Regions from separate parts of the Homo sapiens genome. Here region 1 is linked to region 2. Evidence: fine-mapped expression QTL. A gene starts in region 2. The other region holds a variant in brackets. All regions are shown on one strand. Distances are between the middles of the regions.

Region 1 (11,765 bases), 460 kb after region 2:
CAGACACTGGGTACTACTTGAGGTGGGAGGGTGGGAGGAGGACGTGTGCTGAAAAACTACGTATCAGATACTATACTCACTACCTGGGTGATGGGATCCTTTGTACACCAAACCAAAGCAACATGCAATTTACCCATGTAACAAACCTGTACATGTGACCCCTGAACCTAAATTAAAAGTCAAAAAAATTTTTAATTCAAAAATTAGTGGATTTAGTAATTAATTAAAACCAGGAAAAATTAAAATAAAATATATTACAGCATATTGCAGATGTCATTGGCAACTATGGCACCCTGAGATTTTGAGCACACACTCTCACATATATGCCTTGTATAAGAATCTCATTCAGTTTTGAAATGCTACCTGAGGCCTAGATGTGGATTGCCTCTTCCAACTAGAAAAAGCAATAGAATTAGTAAGTGCGTGTGTGTGTCTGTGTGTGAAGGGAGGGGGTGGGAGTGTAGAGGACTGTTAAATACTAGGGTTGGAAAACAAAAATGCTAGGGAAAACCAGTGGATCAAGTAACATGGCCTTCCAGGCCAGTTTAAGGAATATCTTAGGTCCTAATGGCACTTTCCAGTTTGTAAGCATATCTTTTTAGTTTACAAGAAGCCTCATTCAGCCTAAAACTACCAAGATGTGCCATGATTTACTACAAGTTGAAAACAGAATCCTATATCCAAATATCATGTTTCTTCAAGCAGTTTGTACTAACTGTGAGTAAATATATTATCCCTGGCATTCACAAATGTTGGAGAGAACTGGGAGAAATCTTAAAAACCTAAAGATTCCTAAAGCCTCTAAGCCAAAGTAAACAGGCCAAGTGTGCTAATCATACAACAAACGTAGAAGGCTGAGACCTTCGCTCAGAGCTTTACGAAGGTACACTAAATCTCACTTTGATTCAAGCAGGATTTTCAAGATACGAATTTCACTAAGGCACAAACTGAATAGAATCACGTCGGTATAATCCTCACATATTTCTGCCAGCTGGGATCCTGGATGTTGAGATGTGACTGCCTCTCCAAGGGCCTGAAACCACCAGTCTGTTTTACATGGGTCGCCACACAGCCATCAGATGGAAACACTCTGTGGTCACTACGCTAACAGATCCAAATCACCTACGTCAAAAGAAAAGGCTACAGCTCCCATTTCCAATCTCCCAAGCCACCCCAGTCCCTCTGCAATGGATAGAGAGACTAAATGAATTGTTTACTTAATTGTGCTGTGCAAGCTGGATAATTGCATGCTTTCCAGGAAGGCTTTGTAACCAATGAGATGGCACTGAATCTGCCAAAACCTGTACCTTGAAGCCAACATCCTTTCTTTCTATAGACCCTCTCCTATCAGAAATAAAGGCAACCCTGGTATTATTTCTAGAGGAGGCAAAACCATGGTAAAAACATCAAAGATCATGTCTTTCAAAATGGAAAAATCTCCATTAAGCTGAACCCACTGAGAACCGCTATCTCCATATTTGCCAGTGTGGAACCTTTAGAGTCACAAACCTTGATTTAACTAACTCATTACACACTGAAACAGCCAACAAATGGCAAAATAATCTACCTTAGCAGGAGAACAATTGGTCCATTACATAGAAAGACCACATTTTAAGAGGAGAAGGGAGATACAATTAAAAAAAGGGGGTTGGGAAGTATTTTTAAATTATCCAATAGTGTGCAAGAAGACTACAAAGATGGAAAATGGGATTTTATTTATTTGTCAGTCTTCAACAGGACTAAAAAATCGATTAATGCCAAAGTAGAAAATACTGAAATGATGTATTGAGGGAAAAAAGAAAACCCTTAAGGGTAGCAACAACCAAATGTTTAGGCAAAGAAAACCCCATATGCTATGATTTGAATGTGCCCCCCAAAGTTCATGTGTCAGAAACAATTCCCAATGCAACAGTGTTGAGAGGTGGGAATTTAAGAGGTGATTGGGTCATGAGGGCTTTGCCCTCATGAGTGTATTAATTTGTTAGCAAGGAAAGGAGTGAAAGGAGTGGTTTGGCCCCCTTCCTTCCCCCTCCCTACTCCCACACTCTCTTGTCCTTCCGCCTTCCACATTGGAATAATGCAGCAAGAAGGTCCTCTTCAGATGCTGGCCCCCGGACCTTAGACCCCTCACCTTCAGAACTGTGAGAAATAAACTTCTGTTCTTTATCAATTACCCAGTCTGTGGTATTCTGTTATAGCAGCACAAAACAAACTGAGACACCATATTACTTAATAATTAGTCAAGAGAACAAAGCTAAATGAGATGCTTTTAAAACTCCTTCCCCAAAGCCATTTATAAAACGTGTTTGAAATGTTAACAAACACAATGGAAGTTCTCAAATCCAAATACTTGCTTTTGGTAAAGTAACTATTTGCAGCACTTCATACTTACTTCGTTGATTTCCTTCTGAGCAGGCAATACATTTCGAGACATGTTCACAACTGAAAAGTACCTCTCCTATCCAGATCTCCAGCCACCCGTTCTCCTTCCCAGAGGCAACCACTGTTACTGATTTCTTATTATTCTTCCAGATCTTAGATCCAAATACTCTTTAAACTCAATTTTGCAATATTTTTCCATCTATATGTTCTTTCCCATTACCCTCTTGTTTTTATTTCTTATAATGGTTTTCATTAATAGCAATCAGAGTGTTTTTTCCTAGATAGGTCTATGTTCATACAGAGTTTCAGCTTCTCCAACTGGCTATTTCTTCTCAGATGCCATAATCTCCCATGATACAGTCTAATCGACATGCCTCACTAACAGGATTAAGAGTTTAAAGGAACAGTACTCCTCAGGAACTGCCAAGAGTGTGAAGATGCTTTTTTTTTTTTTTTTTTTTTTGAGACAGAGTCTCGCATTGTCACCCCAGCTGGAGTGTAGTGGCACGATCTTGACTCACTGCAACTTCCACCTCCCAGGTTCAAGTGATTCTCCTGCCTCAGCTTCCTGAGTAGTTGGGATTACAGGTGCCTGTCACCACGCCCAACTAATTTTTTTGTATTTTTAGTAGAGATGGGGTTTCACTATGTTGGTCAGGCTGGTCTCAAACAGCTGACCTTGTGATCCACCCACCTTGGCCTCCCAAAGTGCTGGGATTACAGGCATGACCAACTGCGCCTAGCCGAAAATGCTATTTTTATGCAAATATCCTTCAAAAATCTAGGAGGTTCAAAAAAATGGAAAATACAGTGTAGCTGCTACCAAGATGAAGTTTTAAGAATGTTTCAATCTTGACAGGACAATGTTACCCTGACTCAAGCGCCAGTTGGCTTGGCTGTTGGATGTCAGTCAACCTTTTCTGATTTTTCAGGGTTAGATTGTCCCAGAGCAATATTTGTCTGAAACACACCCTTGAATGAGTTTGGGAATGGGAAAGAAATGATGGGTAGTGGGAGGGTCAGGAGGGAGGATAGGAGAGCACCACACATAGTCAGGGGAGGCTTTCAAAAGAGTCTTGACTCTAAGAATACCCAAAAAGAAAGGTAATGCAAATTTCAAACATACCACATGCATTTTCTTTTCCTTCCCAAATCCCACTAAGGCTATTTTTTTAAATCCAGGTTCTAGTCCTGGTTTTGTCATGACCTTAATTTACCCTTCACCTAATCACCTTTGACTCAGTTTCTTCATCTATAAACTGAGGGGCTTGGCCTCACTGAGTTCTAATGTCCTTTATACATTTAATCTTCTATGAGTCTAAGATGCAATTTCTCTCCATATGTTGAATTATAAGCCTACTATGTGGGTATAAAATTCCTTCAATTTCCCACAACTTATTTGCCATGAAATAACAAACTGTGTAGACTTTTAAATGTTTTCAAGGGCCAGGCGCGGTGGCTCACGCCTGTAATCCCAGCACTTTGGGAGGCCGAGGCGGGCAGATCACGAGGTCAGGAATTTGAGACCATCCTGGTTAACATGGTGAAACCCGGTCTCTACTAAAAATACAAAAATTAGCCAGGCGTGGTGGCGCACACCTGTAATCCCAGCCATTTAAGAGGCTGAGTCAGGAGAATCGCTTGAACCTGGGAAGCAGAGGTTGCAGTGAGCCGAGATCATGCCACTGCACTCCAGCCTGGGTGATGGAGTGAGACCCTGTCTCAGAAAAAAAAAAAAAAAAATGTTTTTAAACCTTCATCAGAGAAGTTACTCTAATGGACAGTTGTCATTCTGAAGATGTCCAGCATCCACTCCTCCTCTTTTACAACACCTGATTTCTTTTAGAAGTATCTGCATTCAATTTGGGGGGATAAATCTAAGTGTTTGCCTCCCCAAACTACAAAGTTTAAGAAGAACCAGAAAGTTTCTTCTTCCAGGCTTTCCCTTCATAAATCAATACATCCATAGGATGGACATGTGACCTACCAACTTTTCTCCCCCAGGACTTCTCTAGCAGAACAACACAGGAGCAAAACAAACAGCTAGCATTCATTCTCTCTAGAAGCAGTAATTTCTTCTACAAAGTTTTCTGTTCTTCAGCTTTCCCTTCAATCCTGCAAACAACCCCATATTCGTCCAGTAAATTCCCTTTTTTACTTTAGTGGTTTGCCACATAACAATCCATTCCAAAACTTAACAGCTTAAGATAATAATCATTTATATACTCACCATTCTATGAATTGGCAATTAGGATAGGGCTCAGATGGGATGGTGTAGCTCCGCTCCATGTGGTGTCAGCTGGATTCACTTAAGCATCTGCAATCAGTGGGCAGATCAGCTGGGGGCTGACTGATCCCAAATGGCCTCACTCGCTCACTTTGTAGAAACCAAATGAAGTGCCGGCTGGAGCACCTTAGTTCTCCCTGTGTCCTCTCATTCTCAAGTAAATTAAACAAGGCTTCATTGCATGATGGAGAAATGTTCTGAGAGGATGAAAGGAAAAACTGCAACTTCCCTTTTCCTACATTCTATTCGTCAAATATAATTTTTAAATCAGCCTAGATTCAAGGGATAGGAGAATAGATTCCATCTTAATTAGAGAAGTGACCAAGAAACCTTTCCAAGAAAAGTGGATACAAGAAAAAATGAATCACTGGGGTCTCTTACTGTAAGCAATCTACCATGTTGGGCTTGGTGTTTGTTGCTTGTGACATAAGGACACTAACTGATCCACAATCAGTGTAATGTGACACAAAACACATTAGATTGTTGAGGCCTTAACATCTGGGACATTTTCCCTGTTTATACCTCACATCTCAATGGGATTAATCGGAAAGAATGTGGGTGTTGTGGTAGTGAGGGTATAAGAAGCACAAAATTTAAAGTGAAACTGCCTTGGTTCCAGACCTGCAGGTTACTTAGCTGTGCAATTTTGAACTTAATTAATCTCTGTGATTTTCATTCAAAATAAAAAGGGGAGTGACAATATCTGCCCTGAGTTGCAGAATTGTTGTGAATATTAAACAGTGTAACTCCATGAACTTCAGGCCATCCTCACTTTGCACTGTAGTGCAGGATCATAAAAATGGCCATGCAAGTTGAAACTGTGCCAAACTTTTTAATAATGAACAGGAAAAATTATCATATTTCCTTGACCTTTAAAAATATTGTCAAAACATTAAAAAACTCTCTCCCTATTGGTTATAAATATGAAGAAAAATGGAAGAAATAGTAAAATGAATGTTTGTTTTCTATGTTGATCTAAAGTGTTAGTAACATTGAGAATAAAATGCTTGATTTATTTGTAAAGAGCTTAACAATATTCATTTGAACAATGCTTGCTTTTTTATCATCATATAATTTACAATATGGAGTGAGCATCTTTCCTATGCCTTGGCAAATTGTCATACTCCTTTCAAAGTTTGGGTCAGCTTCCAACATTTTATCCCTTACGCTTTCAATGCCACAAAATATCTCCAAGGGTTCCTTTAATGTGAAGATTTTTTCCAGAATCATTTCCTCTGGGATATGTTGATCCCTTCATTACAACCACCTTCCTCATTTATGTCAGTAACTTTGCCTTGAACAGATTCTTCTGATTGCGTGTCTTTCAAAAGGCAGTAGTGTCAACATTCCCATGATCAGCTGTTTCTTCTGTAACTACATTTATGTTTGATTCAAACTTCATTTCCAGTGTTATCATTTTTTCTTTTTT[C/CTT]TTTTTTTTTTTTTTTTTTTGAGACGGAGTCTTGCTCTGTCGCCAGGCTGGAGTGCAGTGGCGCAATCTCAGCTCACCACAACCTCCGCCTCCCAGGTTCAAGCAATTCCCCTGCCTCAGCCTCCCAAGTAGCTGGGATTACAGGCACATGCCACCACGCCTGGCTAATTTTTTTGTATTTTAGTAGAGACGGGTTTTCACCACATTGATCAAGAGATCAAGATGGTCTTGATCTCCTGATCTCGTGATCCACCCACCTCAGCCTCCGAAAGTGCTGGTATTACAGGCATGAGCCACCACGCCCGGCCCTATTTTTTCGTTTCTTTTTTGCATCTTCTTTTTTTCTTTTGGCCAATTCCCTCTTTCAATTTTCCACATTTGTACAATGTTGCTCAGGTTTACCACTAAGAAACAAGATAATAAACTCCACACTTTGTTGTCTGTTTGTGAACTAAATAACAGATGCACAGTGACCAATCACTGAAAGACTTCGAAAGAAGTGACGGATTAGTCACCAATCATGATGCACATCTGTTACTTATATAGTGACTTGGTGGAACTAAAGAGCTAGCAGCAAAGTCTGTACTTCATGCAATTGCTCACAGCTAATATATGTGGTAACTAAAATTTGAATCATATTGTTGAGGGACTGGTGTTATTTAATTAAACTGTAGTAAGTGAAATTTGTGCATATCAGAACTATGCAAAACAAGGACTGCCTGTATTAAACATTATATAAGGTTTAACTATTGCCAGTTGTTATTAAGGAAGGAAAGACTAGACCTCATACTTGGTGCATGAAAGAAGGGGTTAGATTTAATTCAAACTTGCACTCAGCTCTAACAATTTTCATCTTTGTCCCTGTATTAATGCTAACTAGGCAGCAATGAAAGGAGAAGGAAGGACTGAAAACACAGCTATATTTTAACCTTTCGCATAGGGCTAGAAGGAAATTCCTGGAGAGGAAAACAGGGCATAACCAAACCTAAAGTTCGTCTAAAAGTGGGGAGATTTGTCCAAATTAAGTAGATCTTTTATCACTCTTTATTTCCAAGGCAAGAAGGAAAATCCTTCAATATTGTTTTCCATGAATGTGGCTGGTGGTCTCTAAAGATCCATTTTCACTTCTTTTGTAGTTGTAGAACCCCAAATTTTGGCTGGTTGTGCAGCTGCCCAGAACAAAAGGCCATATTTCCCAGCCTTCCTTGTAGCTAGCTGTGTCCATGATTAAATACTGCCCCATGAGATATAAATGAAAAGACTGTGGGGACTTGAAGACAGCACCTTAAAAGGAGCTGACAGTTTGGAGAAGCAACCTTTTTCCCTACTACTGTCTGGAATGTGGACAAAATATTAGAAAGAGCCCTCTTAGACCATGAAGCCATGGAAGCCAAGTAATGGGATAGTAGAAGACAAATACAGAAGGAGGCTTAGTCCTTCATGGATGTATGGAAACGTCATACCAGCTCTGGCTGCCTCTTTCCACACTTCTTCTATAATGTGTATTTAAGCCACTCTTTTTTTTTTTTTTTTTTTTTTTTTTTTGAGACAGAGTCTTGCTCTGTCGCCAGTGGCTGGAGTGGTGCAGTGGTGCGATCTCAACTCACTGCAGATCTCGGCTCACTGCAACCTCTGCCTCCCAGGTTCAAGCGATTCTCCTGCCTCAGCCTCCCGAGTAGCTGGGACTACAGGCATGTGCCACCACGCCCAGCTAATTTTTGTATTTTTAGTAGAGATGGGGTTTCACCATGTTGGCCAGGATGGTCTCGATTAGGCCACTCTTTTAGGTCTTTCTTACCCACATGTGGATACAGTTCCTAATAGATAAAATGAATACACTTATCTGTTCAGTGGCCTATTTTAGTGGCCCAAGTAGCAGATTGACTCTTTCACCACTGTCTTACATCCTTCTAGGCAGTAAAAGTACCAATAAAGCAGAAACACATGGGAAAAAAAAAGCCCTTCCCACAGTGTTGGATATTTAGAGGAACAAAGCTTATGGTTGTTTGCAAAGTCCTAATACAGATTCAAATAGTCAAAACTCAAACACAGACCTGGCTTAAGAGTTGTTTGGTTGGAAGGGAGATGAGAGGATGTAAAGAGGGTACTAGTTCACAGCAAACTCATTATAAAACAGAAGCCCTAAAATGTAATTCAGTATAAGGCTGTACTCACGTAAGTGTCTAGAGCAAAACAAAGGAAGTGTTAGCTCAGTTCTGGTCCCAGGTTAAAAGGCACATTTAACAAAAAGAAAGAAATTGAGGTGAGGGCAAGCAAGCTGGTGTAGATATCCCCATTCTGTGAAGGATGGGAGAAGGAACTTGGGTTCTGTAGCTGAGAGCAAAGAAGACACAGTAGAAATGTGACTGGCATTTCACTTATCTGATGTGCCATCACTTTATTTTGCATGGTTCCAAGCAGAATTAGGACCTATGACTGAAGTAAAATAAAATAGATTTTAACTCAATAAAAGAGAAAACCTTCTTGAGAATCAGAACTTTCCAGAATTGGAATGCACTAGTTTGTAAGGGAGTGAGTTACTTGACATGGTGGTGAATTTTTTTAAGAAAAGACCATAATGATATTCAGGGCCTATTCTGAAACTAAGAATAAAAAATAAAAGCATTGTTGTATCTTGAAATCCTTGGAAAATTAAAGTGATTTTGATTCTAGGCTGCCTATAAGTGAAGGAGATTAAGGGGAATTCTGCATTAAAAGGGAGACTGGACTAGGTAACATTTCCAGTTTGTGTGTGTGTGTGTGTGTGTGAGATGGAGTCTCATTCTGCTGCCCAGGCTGGAGTGCAGTGGAGCGATCTCAGCTCACTGCAACCTCTGCCTCCTGGGTTCAAGCAATTCTCCTGCCTCAGCCTCTGGAGTAGCTAGAATTACAGGCATGTGCCACCATGCCTGGCTAATTTTTGTATTTTTAGTAGAGATGAGGTTTCATCACATTGGTCAGGCTGGTCTCAAACTCCTGACCTCAGGTGATCCACCCACCTTGGCCTCCCAAAGTGCCTGGATTACAGACTTGAGCTACTGCGCCCCACCGCCCTTCCAGTCCTAACATTGTATTAATACTGTATTTTCCCGTTACATGTGAAACTATTTTTAAGTGGTTAATACACAATAACCCAGGAATCGAATAAATGCTCTCTGAGAAAAATGATGATGCTTGTATTGACCAGAACTCTTTCAATTGCAAGAGAAAGAAACTCAACTAGAGAGTTTGATGGGGAAAAATAAGAAACACGATGGCAGGAATAAATCTTACTTCCAGCATGGATGCTCAAACAATATGGTCAGAAATCTTTCTGTATCTCTTGGGTCAATTTTTCCTGAGCTGGCTTCAGTCTCAGGCAGACTCTCACCATGTGGAAGCCAAGCTCACCTCTGTCAGTTTCATACTTTCTTCTCTAGCCCAGCAATGTCAATGGGCAGAGAACTCCATTTTTCTCAAAAGTTTCTTAATCGACTTAGACTAACCTAGCTTCAGACACAAACCCATAATTAACTCAATTACTATAGACTTTGTATGACTAGGCTTGGATCACACAAACTGAGAATAGGGCAAGGATCATTTCTACATGAAAAGAGGGCTTCTGTTATCTGAAATACAGGATGTTTGGAAGAGAAAAATAATACATGTCTACTAGGATAACAATGAATGGAAGGTTTTTAAATGGCAACTTTATTACAATTCTGGGCCTATCCTAAATCTCAAAATAGGAAATGAAAACAACATGTATCATAAAATCTATGAGAAAATAAACTGAATTTGATTCTAGGCCTTAATCTAAAATTCTAATGCTCAGGCAAATAACAATTTTAACATGTCTGTCTTTTCACCAATTCCTTTTTTTCTCTTAAGATGTCTCTGTTCACAGACAAACTCATCAGACAAAATAATAGCAAACAAAGGGAAAAGCATAAAAAGGTTATTGAAGTGGATGAAGGCACGGCATGTAAAGAAAAATTCTTCATTAATAGCTGAAAAAATCTTTCTCTATATTTAATATTTAGGTGACAGATTTCTGTTTCAAGAGAAGTAAACATTACAGTCATGAATAGCAAACAGAAACACAAACTCCATTTATTTGTAAAATAAACTCATTTTCTTTTCAAATCAATGCAAAAAATGACCCAATGCCATATGTTCCATTTGCCATGATTCTAAGACAGCAAAGCTATACAATTTCTAGATCATTAGCTTGTCTTCCTATTTTTCCATGTCTTACAGTTCTGCTAGGTAAGCATTCGTTCATTCACTTTGATAATCCTACCTTTTATACGTTGGATTTGCTCAATTACTCCATGCAAAAACTACTGCTGCCAGCGGGTGGGGGTATAGAGGAGAAAAGGGCCCACCCCATAGTTTCTCTAAAAGAGCAAGAACTAAGACTATATTTCCAGTGGCTTCAAACAAAAGGGGGTTTTGTCTTTTGCTAGTCTTGAGTTTGAAAAAGGCATTCATACCCCCTCATTTTACACCATTGGAGCCAGGATGAATGCCACAGTACTCAGGGATAGCACAATGGGGCCAAGCAGCAGCATGTCAGCTCTGTAAGTAGTGGGTGACAAGATGGGTAATGTGTACCTGCAGTCATGTGGGGCTTGTGGAAGGGTCCTTGAGGTGAAGAGGAACAATCAAGGGGTTTCAGGTTATCTGTATAAAACCAGATAAGTAAAGTTCTGCAAATAAATCCCCAAATCTGACCTGAAAAATGTAATCCAGAGTCATTGCAATGATCTACGACAGAAACCCTGAGGATAGAAAGTTGTGTATCATTCCTTGTATCTCCCGTGTTTACTGCATTCCTTAGCTATCCAAAGAGAGATTTTTGCTGGCTTAAGCCATCTGAAATGGTTGCATGAGATTGAGGCCATTATGAAAAAAAAAATGTGCTCAATACCTGAGACAAGCTGTGGAATTCACACTAAATAGCTTCATCTATGTGACTTAGGATATAAAGTCATCAGTAGATGGTTACCCAAGAAATGAAAGTGGAACTAGAACACAAACTAAAGATACATGAACAAACAAACATGTTATCAGGATGTAGGAGGAAACAGTAACAAGGGGTATGAAAGAATGCAGCAACTCATGACAGGTGCAACTTGACACACTTCAATTTTACTACTTCTTTTTTGCAGATAAACTCAGGAATTGACAAATAAACAAATATAATAATAAGCGTGAGAAGATCAAGGTGGTTTATCATGCATGGATAAATAATTTTAATAAGTCCAGCACAGAGGATGTTGTTGAATCCTTTCTATAACTCCAGGAGGTAGTCACTAGTAATATCTCCATTGTATAAGACAGGAAAGTAGATCTCAGAGAATTCTGTGTAACTTATCTAAAGGCACATAGCTAGCAAAGGCAGAGCCAGAATTTTAACTCAATCAGTCAGATTCCCTGTGCTCTGTGCTTTACCATCAATGCTTTTTTCTTAAGCACTTTGCATGTACTTGCACATTTAATTTACTTCTTATAGCAATCCCATAATAGAAATTATTTCCATTTTTCCAATAGAAAACTGAGAAGGTAAATCATTTGTTCTTGACTCTAGTGGCAGAGCCAAGATTGGAATTTATGTCTGTCTGACTCTAGAACCTAGTATCCTAGACAATGTGGCACAGACTTCTACTCACCCACCAAAATCTA
Region 2 (9,016 bases):
ATAAAGAACCAGGAAAAGGGGAAGGGGGAAACAGGAGGAACAGTGGAGTAAGGAGTAGAGGCCAAGAGCTGAGGTTGAAGGGGTGTGAGGGGAGAGGAATACCTGAAGTTTGGAGACCAGGGGAAGGGAACCTTGGAACTTCCTGGTGCCGGAGAGCATAGGCTGGAGCAGTTTGGGAGGGCTGCAGGGCCACACTCCCTCCTTCCTTAAGGAACTTCACAAGACCCCCAGAACCCAACACTCTGCTTACCCTTTATCTTCTACTCCTCTCCCTACACCAAAAAAACTTCCCAATGGCCCCCTCTCCATCTACCTCCCAGCTTTCTGGGACTTTGAAAGGGGCAAGCCCAACTTTTTATCCCAAACCTCACTTATTGTGATTAACTTCTCTTTTGGCGTTTAGATCTTCACCCCTTTAACTGTACTGTGACACACCCTGTCTACCTCGCCTCACTGCTTTAAAAAGTACGAACAGGAGGGGGTGAGCGTGGTCGACAAAGCCGACAGACGGCAAACAATGGCTTCTATTCTCCAGCTTTCCTCGAACCCAAGGAGCAAAACCGAGTCTCCCTAACCAGCAACACAGCTTCCAACCAAATGTACCAACAACCCACCAACTCACAAAGGGAACAGAGGGACGCTTCTAGCTTCATAAGCCCTGACCCAGTGCAGGGGTCCCCGAGGCTGCTCCCGTACGAACACCTCCCTACCTTTCCCAAAGGAAAAAAAAAAAAAGTCTTTTGGGTGAGTGGAGAAAATAGAAAAGTAATTTCTTGTTGTAAATATCTGGAGGTAATTGTGTTACTGGTGTGAGTTGTTAGGGGCTGTAAAAAGATACAACGGCACCGTGGGGAGCTCAATTGGGAAGAGAGAGTTACAATAAAGAGCCCATTCAAGAGGTCTGCCCCCCAAAAAGAGGTAAAATAACAAAACAGTCACAGCATCATTTCTCTCTGTTTTTTTTTAAATGCATTATTTTTTCTGTTTTACCTATGGTGATTATTGATCTGCCTGCCTGCAAGCAAAGAATTTCAAGAAGCACATTTTACTCTACAAGGCCATTCCTGGTCTACTTTTTAACTACTTGGTAGACAGCTTAAATCCATAAAAATAAACCGAAAATGAGGACTTTTTCTCAGCATTGGGTAAATACTGGCCACAGCAGAGGGTTACTAGTTACCCTTATCTAGGTTGGCTCTCCAATGCTTCCTTCCTGTCTCTCAGTCCCGGCACCCATAGCCATGCCCTGGATAGGCAAAATCTCCAACTCTAATGCAAAATACCCCACCCCAACAAATGCAGGACCCTGAAGCTGCAAAGGAGTAGTAGGTGGGGAGATGGGGAATGGAATTCCCCTAGGAGGGGTAAAACTTCCAGAACTCCACTTTGTAACCCACGCTGTGCACAATCACAACAGAATGCTCCCATCCTGGCTTGTAACTTCTTGATACCATTTTTTTTTAAATTCAGTAGCTGAGCACAAAGAGGCCTCGTTGATTAGTTTTCGAAGCAGCTGGGAAGGTGGTAGTATTTCAAATTCCAGTTCTGCTCCATTCCCACTTCCCTCTCGCTAAGAAGCTATCTAATTACTTAAGTAAACGTGAACACTAAGTGCAGAAGCAACCCGGGAAGTGGGGCACATCGACACCCGGAAGCAGTCCTGTGCACCGGAGAGGTCAGACCCCCAACTGCAGCCTCAGCCCCCCAGCTCAGCCCGAGGCTCTGTACGGCCTCGCTGGGGCCATAGAACCACATCCTGAACGAAGGAGTCTCCAGACATTTTGGAGTCGCCCCAGCCTTGGACCACAAGAGAGTGGTCACTGCCCCCACCTCTCTGTCCCCAACACAAGCCTCAGTTTTCAAATGCTGTTCTTTTTTTAATTACTTAATTCTCAAATTCCATCCCCAAACTCTTTAACTGAGGTAAAGGGGAGAGCTCTCGGTCCTCCCGCCCCCAGCCAAAAGAGTAATTAGCAATTATGATGACAAAGTTTTACTCTCTAGGGCCAAATAAGATAACAACTAATCAAACTGCCTTCACGCTTTTGCAAAGGTCACTGGCTATAAAAAATGTAATGTCAACCGCAACAACTATTATTTCTCTTCAGTAAACTCGCCAGGCTCAAGCTCTTTGCCTTTCATTTCATTTTCTGCTCCCAGCCCCTTCTAAAACCTTCCCAAGTTCGAGTTAAACGTCCAGAATGGCTTAGGGAGCTTGGGAGAGTATAAGAAAAATAAAAAGGAAGAAAGAAAGAAACCACGTTCACTTTGTTTTTAAACTTTCTAGAAATCGCTCATGAATGAAGAGCCAGGTTTTAGCACTCGAAAAAGAAAGCATTTCCACTTGAAATTCAACTCCATTTCCCCCAATTACACTTGCTAAAATTCAGGGCTATTATGGCGCAGGGAGACTGAGAAAATCTGCACAAGGAAAGAGGCAACAACTTTATGAACTTTGAAAAGACACTTTTCCTCCTGGGATCTTAGAATCGAAAGCTCTCAAATTACTCCGACTAATTAGCCGGGAGAAGAAGTGATCAGACGAGGGGGAAGGCCAATGCTTTCATACAGATTTATTTTCAAGGCCTTACCAAGAAAAACATAAGGGGATTCGGAGTAAAACAAACAAAAAAGCAAACCAACTCTGCACCTCAAAACTTGCTGAAATCCCAACACCTGGTGAGACTGGATCAGAGGAAAACAAGGAAAAATACCCACCAAGCGCAGGGGGCCGGAGAACAGGGAAGAGCCCCAGCCTCCGCAAGGCAAGGGAGATGAGAGTCGGGGGAAGCCTGGGGAGCAGAGAGTTTTCAAGTTCCGAGCTCAGCGCTCCAGTGGAGTTGGGGGCAAGAGCCCGGGGGCTGGGTGGAAGCTGACAGTCCTCCCGCTCGGCTCTGAGCTCCCTCGGAGCGCGCGTTCCACCGCCTTGGCCTGGTGGCTTCCTTCCCGGCTCGCGCTAGCTCGCTCTTCCCTCTACCTCCAGCGTGCGGCTGCCTTGCCGACTGACTCCACTCGGGCTGGTGGCGGGCGCGGTGCCCCCCTCGGCGCTCGAGTGCCGGCTGACTCTTCTGCGCCGGAGCCCAGTGCGGCACAAAGCCCGAGGGCCGGCGGGCGGGCGGAGACGCGGCGAGCAGGTTCCCTCGGCGCTCCCTCGGCGAGTCCTCGGAGCGCCCGCTCTCTGCGCGTTCGCTGGGCCTCGGGCTGGACAAAGCAGCCGGCAGCGGTTGCTCTCTGCGGCCGTTCCAGGGCCTTGGGCACCACAGAGCCTCTTCGTCTTTTCCCGCGGGTCGGGAGCATTGGGCGACGCTGGGGCTAGGAGCCGCGGCTGCTGTCGCGCCTGGAGTCTCCCTTCTTCCCGCGAGCTCAGCCCGCGCTGGCGCTGGCGCTGGCGCTGGGGCTGAGCTGGCCGCCCGCCCCGAGCCCTGCGCCGCTCCCGCTCGCCGGCAGTCGCCCTCCGACGCGGGCTTTCGCTGGAAGTAGAAAGTTTGGGCTCCTGCGTGGAAACTTCTCCGGCCCAACTCTCCCGGCGTAGCAGTGGGGGAGGGGACCGGCGAGAGGGGAGGAAGGAAGGGGGGAGGAAGGGGGAGACCTGTCTGAATATTGCAATAAAAATAAAGCGAGAAGAAAGAAGCGGACTCACCTTTATGAGGCATCCTTTCTGGTTGTCACAGCTTCTGTCAAGAGTTTTGTTTGGTTGGGGTTTTTTGTGCTGCTGTTGTTGCTTGAAGACCACAATGGTTTGAAATGACGGTGTTTTAAAGGAGTTGCTGGTGAGAGTTTTCTCCACGGATGTTGCTGGGTTGGTGTGTGAGAGCAATTCTCAGATTCCTGGGAAGGAGACAGAGATTGACAATAAAATGGGCTGTCAGCGGCTGGAGAGTGAGAGATAAAGAGTGTGGGTGAGGGAAGTGGCTGCAGCCAGCACACCTATGCTGATTGGTGATGGCTCAAGTGTGTTAATGTGTGTGTGCCGGCGCCCGGCCTCGCCTCCACCGCTCCTCACTGGCCCATTAGCGAAGCCTGACCTCTGTCATCATCCTCCAGCAAAACACTTCCTCCTGCGCCTGAACCAGAGCGGGAAATGAGGCCGAGCCACGGTTCCCTTTTCAAACCCACTAATCACTCCGCAACATGCAAATGCACCGCTCGCTCTCACACAAAATATTGCTTTATGCAAAGCAGCGCCGGGGCCTCGCGCCAGCCGATTGGATGCTCCCTCTCCCCGCCTGGTGCAATTGGTCCGTTTGTTTGAATATGAATACACTTGTTTTCGGCTCCGCCGGTGGGTCCCGGCTCCTCTCCCCGGCGCAGGGCCCCCGAGCCCGGGCTCTGGCGCTCGCCTGCATCTCCCCGCTCCGCGCACGCCGAGATTCGGCGCGGCCCGCCCTGCTGCCGCGAACTTGAGCGGTCAAGTGAAGGTTTCTGGGTTGGGGGTCGCGCCCCCACTCCCCCTAAGCTGGACTCGGGACTCCCAGTCCTCGGAGGGTGCAAGTTTCTGTGCTGTCCTTTCTTGCCAACTCCAGGACAGCGTGGCCTGCCGCCCCGCCCCCGCCCGCCCCCACCCCATCCCAGCCGGGGCCCCAAGACACAGAGCACAGCGGCGGCCGCACCCCAGCCCACCTGGCCCCTTGGAAGAAGAGGAAAGGGGCGGGAGCGTCACTGGGTCCTGGCAGCTCCATTCCAGCTGCGGAGGCCGCGGCGAAGCCTAGGCCGAGAGGAGGTTGCCGGGCCGAGAACTAAACGAGGCCAGAGGCCTCCCCAGCCCAAGCCTCCAGGGCCTGTCCAAATCCTCCACCCCGCTCTCCCCGCCCTTTCTTCTCTCCTTTCTCCTTTCGGAAGCCGCGGTGCGCAGCGGAGCAGAGGCACAGCTCTGGCTGGAGAGGCCCGAGTAAACACGCCACTTACTTTGTGTACAGAGGGTTCTTGTGAAAAGCCCTGAAGAGTCCTCACCAAACACTCACCAACTTCTCCCACGTGCCATTTGTTGACTAAGTGCGGCTGCTTTTCGCAGCGCCCGAGAGGAGGGGAAGCCAGGGGAGATAAGAGGGGAGGGGGAGTGGAAGCCTGGGTGGGGGGGCGGATGACCAATGCTGGGAGGGATTCTCTCTCTCTCTCTGTGTGTGTGTGTGTGTGTGTGTGTGTGTGTGTGTGTGTCCCACTGGCGATGTCGGTATGTCAGCGTGTGTCGTGTGTGCCACCGGTCATCTGTGTGTGGTGCGTGTGTCTCCGCACCACGACTCCCTCTCCTGGGTCTGCTCAGTCCACGGAGGCAGCTCCCCTTCAGCTGTTGCCAGAAAACCGGGGAGGAAAGTAAGTAAATGGCTTTTCTCTTCTGACCACACACCAGAAGTCCATTTGTTGAATGCCGCACGATTAGGACACACCTCAGTACACTCCAAAGGCGCCCCTCGGAGCCTGCAGTTAAGGTGACAGGAGAGCGAGCGGCTGCCTGGTCCTGCGCTGTCCCGAGCTCTCTCGGCGGCTTCGGGCCACGGAGCCGGGAAGGAGAAGGAAGGCCTGGGCTGCTGTACACACCCCAGGACAGGGCGAGGGGGAATAGGGCTGAAGAGCTGAGGCAGGGAGGCTGAAATGAAGCAGCCGAAGGGTACGCTAGACTCTTCTTGACTTAGGGAAAGTGCTGAAAGTCAGAGCTCATCAATAAAATCTGCGCGACCTGAACTCGCTGCTGACTGGCCGCGTCGCCGCAGCCCCTGGCAGCCGGGACAGTGAGGACGCTGCAAGCCGCCCTGGGCCGCCGGGCCACATGTGGGCCTCACCCTCTCGTTCCTGCCTGGGACCCAGCAGCCCTGCGACCAAGGAGCCCGGGCAGGGCTCCCGGGAAGCAAAGGCCTCCCCGGCCCTAGCCAGAGGTGGGGTCGCATAACCCTCTCCCCTCCCCGGGCTGGGGAGGGCTGCCGGCTCTAACCCTTCCCCGGGAGCTCGCAGCGCCGGGAGGAAACCTGGGTCAGAGGTGAAGGAGGTGGCGCCGGGTGTCCAGGTCCGCGGCCTCCTGGGCGAGGTTTCATTTCGCAGGAGCGCGACTTTCGGAGGATGCCGGCAAGTGGGGCCGCGGCCCTGAGTCCCAGACCAGCGAAAGTCGGCTTTCTCTTTCTCTCTCCTTTTACTTTCCAAGCGAGCATTAAAGAAGCTTGGACTCAAGACTCAAGTCCGCTGTGCATGAGCGAGGGACTTGCGGGGGGGCGGGGGGGGGGGAAGTGATTCTGTCCGAACTGGAGGCGAGTATCATTTTTACAACCTCTCAATTAGCGACCGAGTGGATTAGCACCTTCTTAAGCTTTGCCTCGGAAAGAAGCAGCCGTAATCTTGTTGCTATTTCCCCCCAGGGCACTGGCTCTTTGAATCAGCTCCTTCTCCCACCCCTCCAACCCCCATCTCGCTGCGGAGAAAAGTTTTAACAAAAAATCAGAAAAGGCAAGGAGCGAGGAGTGAATGCCACTGACGTCATTGGGTGGGGAAGGGGGCTCCGGGAAAGACTCCTGGAAACTCCTCCGCACAAACAAAAAACAAAAAGGACTTGGCTGCTTCCCATGTGTCAATATTTGGGGAGGGGAGTTCAACCCCAGAATGAGGCCGAGTTTTCAAAGTTTAAGGAGAGAGGGGTGAGAGTGAGATTTCCTCGTTCTCTCTGGACTGGTCTCAAGGAAGGTGGGGGTGCTGTTCTACCTCGTGGGGAGCCTCACTCCCTCTGCCAAGTACCGGCTCTGGGGGCGAAGCGGCCTAGGGGTGTGGGGGCCGAGACTGAGGTGCGGGCGCGGTTGCCAGAGGTGTGTACAAAACCGAGACAACTCGCAGGTCGCCATTTTAATTGCGGCTACCAACACGCCCGAGGCCCACTTGCTGCCCTCCAAGACGCGGGGGGGCGGCGGGGATTGCGCTTTAGGTTCTGTCTCCTTTCCCCGCCTCCCCACAGGCCCCTGTTCCCCCCTACCCTCCGCCCCCTGTGGCCAGAGGGAGGACCTCTCAGGCCGGCGGGTGCGTTCCCGCGGGGGCCGCCGGGGTCGTCCCACCCGGTAGCGGGGCTGTCTGCGTGGAGGGAGTCCCGCTGGGGGACCGTGGCTCGCCAGAGCCTGCCCAGAGCTTCTAGCCAGTATTGATGCGTCAACATGAGGTGAGGCAAGCATCTCACCCGCACCGATCCCTGGCATTCCCCTGTGCCCACCCCATCAGGCCTTCGGGGAGGCAAAGAAGTGCCCACTTCTGGGGGGAAGTGCCTCCAGCTCCCAGCTTCAGAACCAAGAGCCTCCCATCCGGAGTTCTGACAGTTCTGACACCTCCAAACTCTCTCTTTCCCCGGTCAAGCAGAGGCGCAGCGCCGGCGCGCTGGAAAGGGTGAAGACTGGCATTTTTTGGAGAAGGAAAGTCTTGGCAGACACCTGCGTCACTTTGTAGTGCCCCAAACGTCTCTCTTTTTGCAGACCCTGGGAAGGTGGGATCCCTTGTCCGCGGAGCTGGCAAACGGGTCCAGTGAGCCCTAAAGGCAAAGGCTCCCATCCCGGCCGCCCAGTCCCTGGTGCCTCCCCCACTTCCAGGCCTTTGTCCCTCTCCTTTCTCCAGCAACCTGCCGGTTCCCGCTAACCCGGCAGCCTCGCCGAGCCCAGAGCCTAGAAAAGCCAAGAAGATCCCAGAGCCGCCCCGTGGCACCTTCAGGCTGTGGCCACTGCTCGGCTTGGGGGGAAGCCGCGGTGCCCTCGCCCTTCCTCGCCTCCTGCCAAATGGCCAGTGCTAGGGGCTCCCTGGGTTCAGTCCTCAGTCCTCTTCCGTTCGCTCTGGGAGGCCAGCCTGTCTCTCTCTCTCTCTCTCTCTCTCTCTCTCTCTCTCTCTTTCTCTCTCTGTCTTCTCCCTGCCCACCCCCAAAATACCTTTAAAATAACATTGTCCAGTGGAGTCTCCCAGCAAAGGGATTCCTAGCAGCCCAGCGGGTCAGACTCCCAAGGCTTTGCCTCCCAGTCCCTCCATGCTGTTGTCCAGATAGGAGTTAGGTTTAAAACTCCTGACATGTAGGACAACTGAAATCAGCGGCACTCTCCGATTTTTGCAAATAGGGTTCCTAGAAAAGTTTGCTTTCCATTTCATCACCCTGTGACGATCCCCCCATCTCTCTTTTCCCTGTAACCTCTGCCCCCAAGAGGCAAGAGTTCAGCTTCAAAGGAAAAGCAAGCAAGTCAAGGCCACCTCAGTCCCTTCTCCCTGGATATCCCCTCTCTAAACCGCTGCCTATTCTAAAGGCCAACGACCCGGTCCTGCGATTTGTCCCGTTGTAGACCTGGGAACAGGCAGGCGGGAACTGGGGGCTTTACTGGGGGATTTGAGGCTGGGGAGGGGGAGGGAGCAAATGTCATGGCTGGCTCGCTCAAGCATCCAGGGAACCGAAGCTAAGCGCATCCTGACGGGCTTTTAAAATGACATTGATTAGGACAAGCTGTTCCCAACCCCAGTAAGAGTTAATCTGCCTGTTAATCAAGGCACTAAGGGGCTCAATGCGAGTTTTATTAGCGACAGGAGAACAGAGGCGGCAGCCAGGGATCAAAAGCCGGGATCCCATATATTTGTCAGCGCTATCTCCAAAAAAAAAAAAAAAAGTATTTTCAATTTGAAAACAATTCGGCGCTTTTCGTCACTTCCTAACCCAGTCTCACAGAGGGTGACTTCCAAACCTGGCTAGCGGGGAAAACCGCTGCCCGGGGGACAGAGGGGCTGACAGGAACTGCGGGTTGGCTCAGCCGAATGCGGCCGGGGAGAATTTAAGAATTCTCAGCCCGCGCGGCCCGATGCCTCTGATTCCTCACGAGAGGAAAGGGAATGAAAAATGAAGCAACAAATGACACCACCCAGGCTGGCAGCCCTCGTTCCCGGCCAGACCCCGCTCCTCAGGCCCGGCTCTGGCGCCGGGTGGCGTCCAGCCCCTGCACGCGCGGCGCGGCCCGCGGGAAAGTTTGTGCAGCGAGAGTGACTGTCCTTCCGCCTCGCGCGCGCTGCCCCCTTCTGCCCCGGAGGG

Which allele goes with the higher level. Alleles are on the strand shown, and positions count from the first base shown. SD is a standard deviation of normalised expression in the study named.
With allele CTT in place of C in region 1, the expression in monocytes after LPS of the gene that starts at base 4,135 in region 2 is lower (small effect, 0.39 SD a copy in Fairfax 2014).

What was found. PIP is the estimated chance that this variant, and not a neighbour inherited with it, causes the effect.
Region 1: its variant is fine-mapped to the expression of PAX6 in monocytes after LPS (Fairfax 2014, PIP 0.91).

Annotation. Positions count from the first base shown.
Region 1 is chr11:32,269,405-32,281,169 of GRCh38, forward strand. No RefSeq gene overlaps it. Among named protein-coding and RNA genes, the nearest start is that of SNORA88, 130 kb to the left of the region's middle. The variant C/CTT (reference allele first, on the strand shown) is at 6,099.
Region 2 is chr11:31,807,188-31,816,203 of GRCh38, forward strand. It overlaps PAX6 (paired box 6), which reads right to left and starts at 4,135. Exons shown (of 14, transcript NM_001368894.2): 1 at 3,928-4,135; 2 at 3,641-3,828. RefSeq lists enhancers at 3,701-4,270, 3,973-4,030, 5,378-6,346, 8,408-9,016, a promoter at 3,918-4,327 and a silencer at 7,190-7,444.